3 linked regions of the Homo sapiens genome follow. The protein of the gene in region 1 interacts with the protein of each later gene in a biochemical or structural test. Each region holds a gene or a part of one and is shown in the gene's direction. Other genes may lie near its edges. The genes, in order: A2M, LEP and KLK13.

Region 1 (3,655 bases):
TTCTGTAAATTTGTGTATGAAATGTATGTAATTATCCTAAGGCCTTATTAAAATTAGTAGAGTTTTCCCCCCTTCTTTTGAAACAGCATTGTACAAGTCACTCAATCTCCTTCTCATGGTTTACCAGGCAGTCTCAGGTTTTTATGACATTTTCTCACAAGAATCTCAAAATTCATGCTGACCAGTTTCATTACGATGCTAACACTAACTTTGTATGGAAACAGGTGGGTAGGTGGTTTTAATTTTTATTTTGAAGTATTAAAGATTCTACAATAATGTTTATTTCATGGATAGTATATTTACACTATTTTTCTATAACAAGTATATTTCTAAAACAGTGAACATGGGGTAAAACACTGCTATTTAAGGTTCTCAGATTTTTGAATTATGAATTTTCATGTTATCTACCAAAAAAATCTTCTCTTACAATTTTTCTGTTGTCAGCAGATGTGCAAATGGATCTTTATGACTCTAGAAGTCTGAGATCACAGTTACATGTGCCTCAATGTGTATTTACTGTGTATCATTTTCTTAATGTAAATGTTACAGGATTTCAGCTATGAAGGGTGTAAAAGAGGCATAGACTCAACAAAGTGGAGTACATTCTAGAAGGCTTGGTTATGTCATGACACCAAAATGTATTCAACTTCCTAAAATGAAAGTGTAGCTCATTTGTAAATTTCTCAGAAAGATAGTGTACTTTGTAAGTACATTTTATTGCTGTTAAATATCCTATTTGTCATAAGACTCTCTAGCTAGAAGAAAATCAGAATTATGTGCCTATTCTTGTCTTTGTACATGCAGCCAACATTTCACTGGCAAACTTAGATTTTGTAAATCAATTATGAGTACTGATGGGGGTCAGCCTATTGTTCTTCCTGCTACCAACTGTAGCTTATACTGAAAAAGAATTGCCACCTTTACAATCTGAACTGGACTACTCAACTGCCAATACAATATTAGCAGTAAATTAGATTTGGCAACTTATTTAATACTGTGTGCCTCTTTTCAATTTTATATTTTTCACATGGGAAGTGTGTCATAAAATCTGCCTACCTTCCAAAAGGCTGAAGATCTAGGTTGAGAAGCAGAGACCATGTCTAAGGCAACTGGAGAAACACACAGGACAATGTATTGGCAATTGTTTACTTGTGCACTTATGAGACTTCAGACACTAATCTATAGGAAGTTAATGGTCCACTCCAAAATAGGTGTTTGGGGCACAAATAAATTTAGTTAATAGATTAATAGATTAAAATATTTCATTATCATATTACTCTAGTGCTCTGTGACTCTCTAAGAGTTATATATAATAATACACAGCACTTCCAAAATATCTAGAAGACATTTTTCAGGTCACTCTTGTTATTATCCCTATCACTCTCTATCCCTTCACACTGCTCTGTTTTTCTTCTTAGGATTGATTACTACTAAATTAGTGTATGTTATGTATATATTTATTTAGCATCTATCTCTTTCACTAGACAGTAAGCTCTGTGATGGAAGAAACTTCGTTTTTTTTCACTGCTGTGTCCTCAGTGCCTGGAACCATGTTCAACATAGAGGAGGCACTAAAAAATGTGATAAATGAATATGTTTGGTGCCTATTAGTTATTACCAATATAACTAATCCACAGCTTTTAATCTTCAGGTGCGCCTAGTAGATGGGAAAGGCGTCCCTATACCAAATAAAGTCATATTCATCAGAGGAAATGAAGCAAACTATTACTCCAATGCTACCACGGATGAGCATGGCCTTGTACAGTTCTCTATCAACACCACCAATGTTATGGGTACCTCTCTTACTGTTAGGGTAAGTTTGGAAAGAAATTACCAATGACATGAAGTAGCCTTGGAAACAAGGTTGCAACCTAAGGGTGAGAAAATTTCCAAACTGTGTCTAGTTCTATGGAGAGAAAAAAACTAGCAATTAGAAACCGATTGAAGGTTAACTTTTTTAAAGTTTATGAAAAGAAGGCAGTATATTGTGATTAAAAGTGCGGGTTAGACTTTAGCAGTGTTGCTGGGAACGTAAAATGGCGGAGCCACTATGAAAAACAGTATAGTAGTTCCTGAAAAAATTAAAAAATAGAATTACCAAATGATCCAGTAATCCTACTTCTGGACATATATTCAAAAGAATCGAAAACGGGGTCTCAAAGAGCTATTTGCACACCCGTGTTCATAGCCGCACTATTCACAATAGCTGAGAGATCGAGGCTACCCAAATGTCCATCAAGGGATGAACAGGTAAACAAAATGTGGTATATAAATACAACAGAATATTATGCAGCCTGAGAAGGGAAGAAAATCCTGTCACATGCTACAGCATGAATGATCCTTGAGGACGTTATGGTAAGTGAAATAAGCTAGTCACAAAAAGACCAATACTGTATGATTCACGTACATGGGGTTTCTAAAGTAGTCAAAGTCATAGAAACAGAAAACAGGATGGTGGTTGCCAAGGGCTAGGGAAAGAGAGAAATGGGGAATTCCTCTTATTGGTATTCAGGTTTAGTTTTACAAGATGAAAAGTTCTGGAGATCTGTTGCACAACAGATATACTTAATACTACCAAACTGTACACTAAAGAATAATGAAGATGGTAATTTTATGTTGTGTGTGTGTGTGTGTTTATAATAACTTTTTTGAAAAGTGTGAATTCCAGAATCTGAATCAGATAAAGTGGTTAAAAATACTGGCTCAACCCTATTTTAAGGAATTAACTAAAACCTCTGTGCTTCATTTCCTTATCTGTAAAATGATTGCAATACTAACACCTGACTCTTGGGGTGGTTGTGAAGATTAAGTGAAATCATACATGTTGAATCACTTAGTAAGCCCCCTTTAACTGTTAGATACTTTTACTATAAAAGCCAATTCTAACATAATTAGCATTTAGTTTTAAATATATATACTCCAAAAATTATTACCTTACTTTATTTTGTCTTGCTATTCTAATTTTCTCCAGATGACCTGTTCATACCAATATAAGTTATTCGGTATAGCATGCAGTCCTCTATTCATCAAGAGAGATGTAGACATGTCTATAGATACATGGATATACAATACATATTTAATATATATTACATAATCATGGTAATGGAAAACGCCTGCCTCTTTAGAGTTTTACCTTGTTATAGAGAAATAAATAATACATTTTATTTATTTAGCTTTAATAGATGGCATAAAAGCACCTCCCTCTAATTTGAATGTTTACTCATTTCAAAAAGTGTCTTGAATGCTTTCCACGTGCCAGCACTGTGCTAGTCTTGACAATGAAATTATTATTTCTACCTGTTCCCTGTTTGGGGTGATCATATATGTGTTGTCACCAAAATATACATTAAGATATGAACAAAATGTTTTGCTCAAGGATTCACTAGTGCTATTGGGAGCTGGGGATGAAGGTAGAGGAAGCCTGAAAGGAGCTAAGGAATAACTTCTACAGGAAGAAAAGTTGGAAATATAACCCAAATAGGGCCTCTGAGGTATTAGAATCCAGATTGCAGGGAGCATTAAAAATAGTCAGCCTAGGCCAGGCACGGTAGCTCACGCCTGTAATCCCAGCACTTTGGGAGGCTGAGGTGGGTGGATTGCGTGAGGCCAGGAGATCGAGACGAGCCTAGGCAACGTGGTGAAACCCTGTCTCTAC
Region 2 (3,655 bases), on another chromosome or scaffold:
TTGAGCCCGGGAAGTCGGGGGTCCAGTGAGCCTTGATCACACCACTGCACTCCAGCCTGAGTGACAGAGCAAGACCCTGACACACACACACACACACACACACACACACACACAGATTAGAGCTGAAACAGGAGTAGAAACCTATCTGTATCTCTGATGAGATCAGATCTTTCTGATGAACAGAAAGAATGTAACCCCTGTACTCACACCCTCTCTGCTGGTTACATATGTTAACACGATTTCTCAAATGAGGCTTTTGGTTGCAAATAAGAGAAAATCACTCACGCTGGCCCTGTGTTTTTCAAATTGTTTATTGTGATCAACATTTGAAAAAAGAGCCGAGACTCTCAAGAGTGCATTACCCACGGTAAGGGTGAATTTTACTTCTTGACACTTATTTCTCTTACATGTATCTATCTGTCTCAAATGAAAAATATATTTAGAAAGTTGAAAGCTATCCAAGTGAGTATAAGAAAAGAGTATCTCACCCTGAAGGCTAAGGACAGGGAGGGCCACCAGGCCTCACGAGGACCCAGGAACCACAAAGAAGGCTAGGAAGGAGCACAGGCGGTGACCATACTCTGGCTCAGTGGCTATGTGGGCTCTGGTCTCTCTCAGCTGTTCCATGCATATGAGGCCAAATGTGGCTACCCTAGAGCTTCTGAGCCCTCAACAGAGATGAACTGGACTCTCTGCAGCCCCACTCTAAATTCCTAAGAGAGAAGTTGATTGACCCAATCAGGGTCAGGAGAAGGAAGGGAGGAGGAAAGGGAGGAGAGAAGAGCCTCTTCGTCTCTTGCCTACCACTGGCCAGGCAATTGTAGCCAAGGGGGCTGGAGTGTAAATGCAAACATAGCCATCAAGGGTTGTGTATGTGTGTGTGTGTGTCTGTGTGTGTGTATGTGTGTCTCTTGGGTAGGTTAGATCTCCCAGGAGGTCCCTACTAAACAGACTTAAGCCCGCAAAATTTTAGCTCTCCAGCCTCACACACTCCACCCCTCTACCATATTGAATCTTCCCAAACCAACTATGGCTTTCCCTAACTCCGGAGCTTGGCCTGGAATGCCCTGCTTCCCCTCTTTCCCCTGGGGAACGCCTGTCCTTCAGGCCTCAGTTCACACACTGCCTCCCTTGCAAAGCTCTCCTCCCATCCCCGGAGTCCCTCTTCCCCTTTGTTCTTTGGGTTCTATGCTTCTTCCCTCATAACTCCCACCAGGTTGTGTTAAAATGAGTTGTTCAAGGTCCTGTCTGTTCCACTAGATTCTGAGCAACTTGGAGAACGAAGATCCAAACTTCGCTGCCTTTATTTCCTCCTTTGTTCTTTTCTCATCCCCAAGTCCCTTCCAACTTGGAGTTATGAAGAAAGGAAGGAAGGAAGGGTGGGAGGGAAGAACAGGAGGGGATCCCACAGGAGAATGTGTATAGGGAGAGGACTCAGACTAGCTAAAGCTTTTCCCTCATAATTAATAGCAAATACCATGTTACCTGAATTTAATTCACAGTAGCATACAAAAGACTCGCTTTGTTCTCCCCATTGATGTCATCAGAGGGCTGTGGGCAGGCCTAATCTTGGCTCAGGAGGCCCTCCAGCCTGGATCTAAAGAGCAGCAGATGGGCCAGGCTCGGTGGCTCATGCCTGTAATCCCAGCATTTTGGGAGGCCGAGGCGGGTGGATCACGAGGTCAGGAGTTTGAGACCAGCCTGGCCAAGATGGTGAAGCCTCGTCTCTACTAAAAATACAAAAATTAGCCAGGTGCGGTGGTGGGCGCCTGTATTTCCAGCTACCCGGGAGGCTGAGGAGGCTGAGGCAGGAGAATCGCTTGAACCCGGGAGGCGGAGGTTGCAGTGAGCCGAGGTCACGCCACTGCACTCTAGCCTGGGCAACAGAGCAAGACTCCGTCAAAAAAAAAATAAAAAAATAAAAAAATAAAAAAAATAAAGAGGAGCACACATCTCTGCCCATCCTAACTCCCACTTTGACATTGAGGTCCCCAGGATGGAGGGTCTGCCTCCATCTGCCTTGTCCCCTGCAATGGTGGGAAGGTGATGGAGCTCAAGTCTAGAGGCCACCAGCTTCTTAGGGAGGTAGGAGGTGGAGGGTGGGGTGCGGGCCCTGCACACAACTGCCAAGTGAGGATGGGGGTGGGGTCCACCTGAGGATAAGTAACAGTGAGGCTGGTGCAGAGGACCCAGGTGGAGGTAGACAGCAGAATTTGTGGTGGGGTGGATGGCACATTATATAAGCCTCTCTTGCTGCCCTGTTTACTGAGATTGTTTCATTATCTTTTTTGGCTTTTGTTTTTAAGAGATGGGGTCTTGCTGTGTCACACAGGCTGGAGTGCACTGTGTGATCATACCTCACTGCAGCCTCGACATCCTGGGCTCAGGCAAACCTCCCACCTTGGCCTCCCAAGTAGCTGGGACCACAAGCGTTTGCCACCACACTCAGCTATTTTTATTTTTATTTTTATTTTTTTTAGAGATGGGGTCTTGCTGTGTCGCCCAGGCTGGTCTTGAACTCCTGGGCTCAAGCGATCCTCCTGCCTTGGCCTCCCAAAGCCCTGGGATTATAGGCTGAGCCACCACACCCAGCCACATTTCATCTGTGCAGCTCCAGGGGCTCCACATTCTACTCTTCTCATTTCTTCTCCAGGGTACCCATGGCAAGGGATGAGGGTAGAAGATGGGGCAGCCAGGCCTTGATTAAAGGAGAAGGAAGGCAGCCTGTGGAGAGGGCAGCCCAGGGAGTGCAGAGAGAAGTGGGCCATGAGGGAGACAGCAGAGTGCAGGCTGCGTCCCAAATGAGCATACAGCCCACTGTGAGCCCACCATCTTCCTAGAGACCCCTCTCCTCTCCAGGAGCTGCTTCAGTAGCACTCAGAGGAAAGAATGATGCTGTATCAACATTTCAGCAGCTCATCTTTTAACTCTAAGAAAATGGCAGCTCCTAAATGTTCAAAACTGCTTTGGAAACTTCTGGAGAGAGGTTTTGCAGCTCAGGCAGACAGCTGATCGCGGCCTTTCTTCCACCCCAACCCATGCTCTCCCCATGCTCTCCTGCCACAGCTGCAGCGGGCCCCTGGGTCCTACATTTGCAGCCCTTTGTCTCTGAGCTCAGACTTCCAATTCCAAGCGGCAGCTGGGCAGGCTCACCAGCATGTCCAGCCAGTACTAGGACATCAGCAGGAGCCCAACCACCTCTTTCCAAAATCTCTCCTCATGTCTCTCCTAGTTTCCATCTCCATCCTTCTAGTCAGCCAGGCTGAAAACATTTGCTCCTCAGGGTGCAGAAGGGAAAGCTTTGCCTCCCTTCCTGGTGCTCACTGCCCCTGCGATTCCAGCCCAAGCCCTCCCCGGCTCCTCACCCTGGTGTCAGCTGGAAGCCACCATCTCCTAAACCCACCTGTGTTCTTCCACCTCTGCCAGGGCTGCCCTCTCCTCCACCTTCACAAACTCAATTCCTACCCATTCTCAGGTCCCTTATCAAATGCCATCTCCTCCATGATGCCTCCCTGATTCCCCTGCTGGAAATAATGGTGATAACAGCTAAGGCATTGGGGTTGGCTACGTGCCAGGCAAGGAGTTGGCACTTTACATGCTTTATCTCATTTCAGCCACATAACATCGACAGGTGGCATTATGATTCATATCATCC
Region 3 (3,639 bases), on another chromosome or scaffold:
ATACCTTAGACCTTCTCTTTCTTCTCCCCAGTGAATTACCCCAAAACTCTACAATGTGCCAACATCCAACTTCGCTCAGATGAGGAGTGTCGTCAAGTCTACCCAGGAAAGATCACTGACAACATGTTGTGTGCCGGCACAAAAGAGGGTGGCAAAGACTCCTGTGAGGTGAGGCCGGGAGGCTGGTGGGTGCCTTGGACAGGATAGAAAGCCAGAATGGAAGTGACAGATGCTGGGGAAAAAGCTTTGTTTCCAGCCTTAGGGGAACCAATCTTTATAAGATACAATGTCCCCTCACATAGGAGGTCAAGACAAAAAGGGGTACCCAGGGATGGCAGGAATAATTCATCATAAGCCCCAGCTTTGACTGAGTGGCTGCCAAGATCCCTGTGTTGAGATGCATAAAGGTTGGTATTCTTTCACTTGTGAGTGATAGACAACCAACTCAAACTGGCTTAAACAAAATGCAGGCTTTTGTAACTGAAAATCCAGGTTGTCTGGCTTTAGGCACAGATGGATCCAGGTATGCAAATTGTGTGTTTGGAATTCTGTCTTTCTTTTAACTCTCAGCTCTTCTTTATTCTGTTTTGGCTTCATTCTCGGTTAGATTCTTCCCATGACAAGATGGCCCCAGCAGCTTTGAGCTTACATCCTACCCTCTAGGCAACCCTATTAGAAAGAGAACCTCTCTTTTCCAATAGTTCACACAAAAGTCTTAAGCATGATTCTCACTAGGCTGACCTAAGTCATGTGTCTTGAGCCATCACTCCACCAGAGCTGTGGGATTCTCTGATGGGCCAAGCCTGAGTCACATAGTTAACTGTGGGTGCTGGAGAGGGGCAGGGACAAACTGCATGGATTGGAAGTGGAGAAGGGCAGTTCCCCAAATGAAAAAATCAGGAGAGGCTGTTACCAAAATAAGGGGAAATGGCCAAGTACAGTAGTTCATGCCTGTAATCCCAGCACTTTGGGAGGCTGAGGTGAGAGGATTACTTGAGCCCAGGAGTTTGAGACCAGCCTGGGCAACATAGTGAGACTCTGTCTCTACAAAAAGAAAAAAAAGTTTTTAAATTAGCCAGGTGTGGTGGAGTACAACTGCAGTCCTAGTTACTCGGGAGGCTGAGGCAGAAGGACTATTTGAACCCAGGAGTTCAAGGCTGCAGTGAGGTATGATCATGCCACTGCACTCCAGCCTGGGTGATAGAGCAAGGCCCTGTCTCTAAAACAAAAAGAAATAAATAGAGCAAGACACTGTCTCTAATAAATAAATAAATAAAAATTTAAAAATGAATGTTTAATTTTTTAAAAATAAGAGGAAATGGATACTACATGAGCAAAAAATAGCCTTCATCAATAAAGAAGTTGAGATTGGATTCAGTGAGAAAGAGTATGATACTATATTAATGATATGTGCCTTGATCGATTAGTGATGTCTGCCTTGGGCCCAGGAAGAGAAATAGACTTACACGTGTGTTGCATACCCTGCCCAGATATGAATGGGTTCACTCAATAGTGAGAGACACAAATGAGCCTTAAATAGGAGCAGGGTCAGCTGGTGTGGGGCAGGGGGTGATTTAGTACCAGGGAAACAAAAATGGGTATGAAGTAAGTTGTTACCATTTTAATGAAACTGAGGAACAGAGAAAAACACAGAAATTTCTCTGTGTCTCTCTTTCTCTGGGCCTATCTCTGTCTTTCTGTCCCTATTTCTGTCTCTTGCTGTCTGTCCCTCTGTGTTTGTCTTCTTGTCTGTTTCTCACTGTCTTCATTGCTTTCTCTCACACTGTGTGTGTCTGACTCTGCCTCTCTGAGTCTCCTTCTCTGTGTGTGTCTCTCTCCATCTTTCACTCTCTCCCCACACCTCCCTGTCCCTGCCTTGTTTAGCCCCAGCAAGGACCCACCTCTCTCTCTCTTTCTTTCCCCAACTCAGGGTGACTCTGGGGGCCCCCTGGTCTGTAACAGAACACTGTATGGCATCGTCTCCTGGGGAGACTTCCCATGTGGGCAACCTGACCGGCCTGGTGTCTACACCCGTGTCTCAAGATACGTCCTGTGGATCCGTGAAACAATCCGAAAATATGAAACCCAGCAGCAAAAATGGTTGAAGGGCCCACAATAAAAGTTGAGAAATGTACCGGCTTCCATCCTGTCACCATGACTTCCTCACATGGTCTGCTTAGCCCTTCTCTGCTCCTTATTCCCAGTGTTCCATTTGAACCAGTGATCCATGTCCTGAAAAATGCTCAATCTCAGCTAACATTCCATGTTTCAGAAGCATTCAGGCACTGCCAGGCTTGCAGTCTCCCAGATGTTGCATCCCTGAAACATCTCAACAACCTGAATGTCCCAACCCAGACAATGGCCCAGGTCTCTCAACTTCATCAGTGTGGCTTCTATGAGCCCAGATCACCACCTGAACGTTCTGTCTGTGGCACATTCTTAAATATTTCCATCAGCCCATCTCAACAATATATGTCCTATAAATGGACCATCCTTGACAACATCCTCTAACTCTTCAAGTATTTATTCAATGCCAGTATCCTAGACCTTCTATTTTTTGCACTCAAGAAGGCTCTAGACTCCCATGATAGTTCATCCTGAAAATATTCTCTTATGCCCACAATCTTCTGCCCTGACAACATTCTGTGTACCTCTGTGACTCACCACAGCTAACATTGGATCCTCAGAATATTTCATTCTCACACTGTTATGGGTGTCTCAGAAGTCCCAACCCAACCTACATCCCACATTCTTCCAATACCCCACCTCTGCCAACATTCCCTCTCTGAATCAATGGCACCCTAGTCTCTAGAGTTATAGGGTTCAGTATACCAAAGGGTCTTCTTGCCTGAACTTTATTGTCTACCAAATATTCCGTCTTGTATCCCCTCCATGAACATCCTTGGTCAGTGTCCCTTGCTGTTACATCTTTGTGCATGACCCTAAAATGTAGTGCAAATCCTTGCTTTGGACAAGTTATAAAACTCACAGTCTCTGTGCTTTCTCATCTGTAAAATGGGTTCATAATTTTTTTTAATTGTAACATTATTACAAGAATAAATGTCAAGCATTTATCACTATTATTATTTGCATGGTTCCCATAAAATATTACCTTAGAATGTTAATAACAGCCCTTCGAATTTGCAGAGTGTCCAAAAAAAGTGTTGCACTGATTTATTTTCCTCAGGAGACATTTCTTCAGTGTTGACTATGTGCAAGCACTCTCCTGGGTGTTGTTAAATATAGTTTATTTACTCAACAAATATTTGTACCTATCAAGAGCCAGGCACTGTTGCAGAGACAAGTGATAACCAATGAGTTAAACAGATAAAAACTTCTGCCCTTGTAGAACTTACATTCTTTTCAAGAAGTCTCCATAACAATGAATAAAGAAATAGGCTGTCAGGTGGTGCTGCAAGCCATAGCAAGAAATGAAACAAGGGCCATATGTGGTAGCTCATGCCTGTAATACCAACACTGGGAGGCCAAGGTGGGAGGATCGCTTGACACCAGGAGTTCAAGACCAGCCTGGACAACATAGCAAGATCCCATCTCTACAAAAAAGTTTAAAAAATTAGCTGGACATGGTGGCACAAGTCTGTAGTCCCAGCTAATCAGAAGGCTGAGGCAGGATGATTG

The links.
Region 2: the proteins of A2M (region 1) and LEP form a complex in vitro, tested with the Homo sapiens proteins (one study listed by BioGRID).
Region 3: the proteins of A2M (region 1) and KLK13 form a complex in vitro, tested with the Homo sapiens proteins (one study listed by BioGRID).

Annotation. Positions count from the first base shown.
Region 1 is NC_000012.12:9,102,397-9,106,051, reverse strand, and holds part of A2M (alpha-2-macroglobulin isoform a precursor), read left to right. Parts: intron 1-1,651; coding exon 1,652-1,813; intron 1,814-3,655. UniProt on the Homo sapiens protein: Is able to inhibit all four classes of proteinases by a unique 'trapping' mechanism. This protein has a peptide stretch, called the 'bait region' which contains specific cleavage sites for different proteinases.
Region 2 is NC_000007.14:128,244,168-128,247,822, forward strand, and holds part of LEP (leptin precursor), read left to right. Parts: intron 1-3,655. UniProt on the Homo sapiens protein: Key player in the regulation of energy balance and body weight control. Once released into the circulation, has central and peripheral effects by binding LEPR, found in many tissues, which results in the activation of several major signaling pathways.
Region 3 is NC_000019.10:51,055,067-51,058,705, reverse strand, and holds the end of KLK13 (kallikrein-13 isoform 1 precursor), read left to right. Parts: intron 1-31; coding exon 32-168; intron 169-1,930; coding exon 1,931-2,119; 3' UTR 2,120-3,080; downstream 3,081-3,639.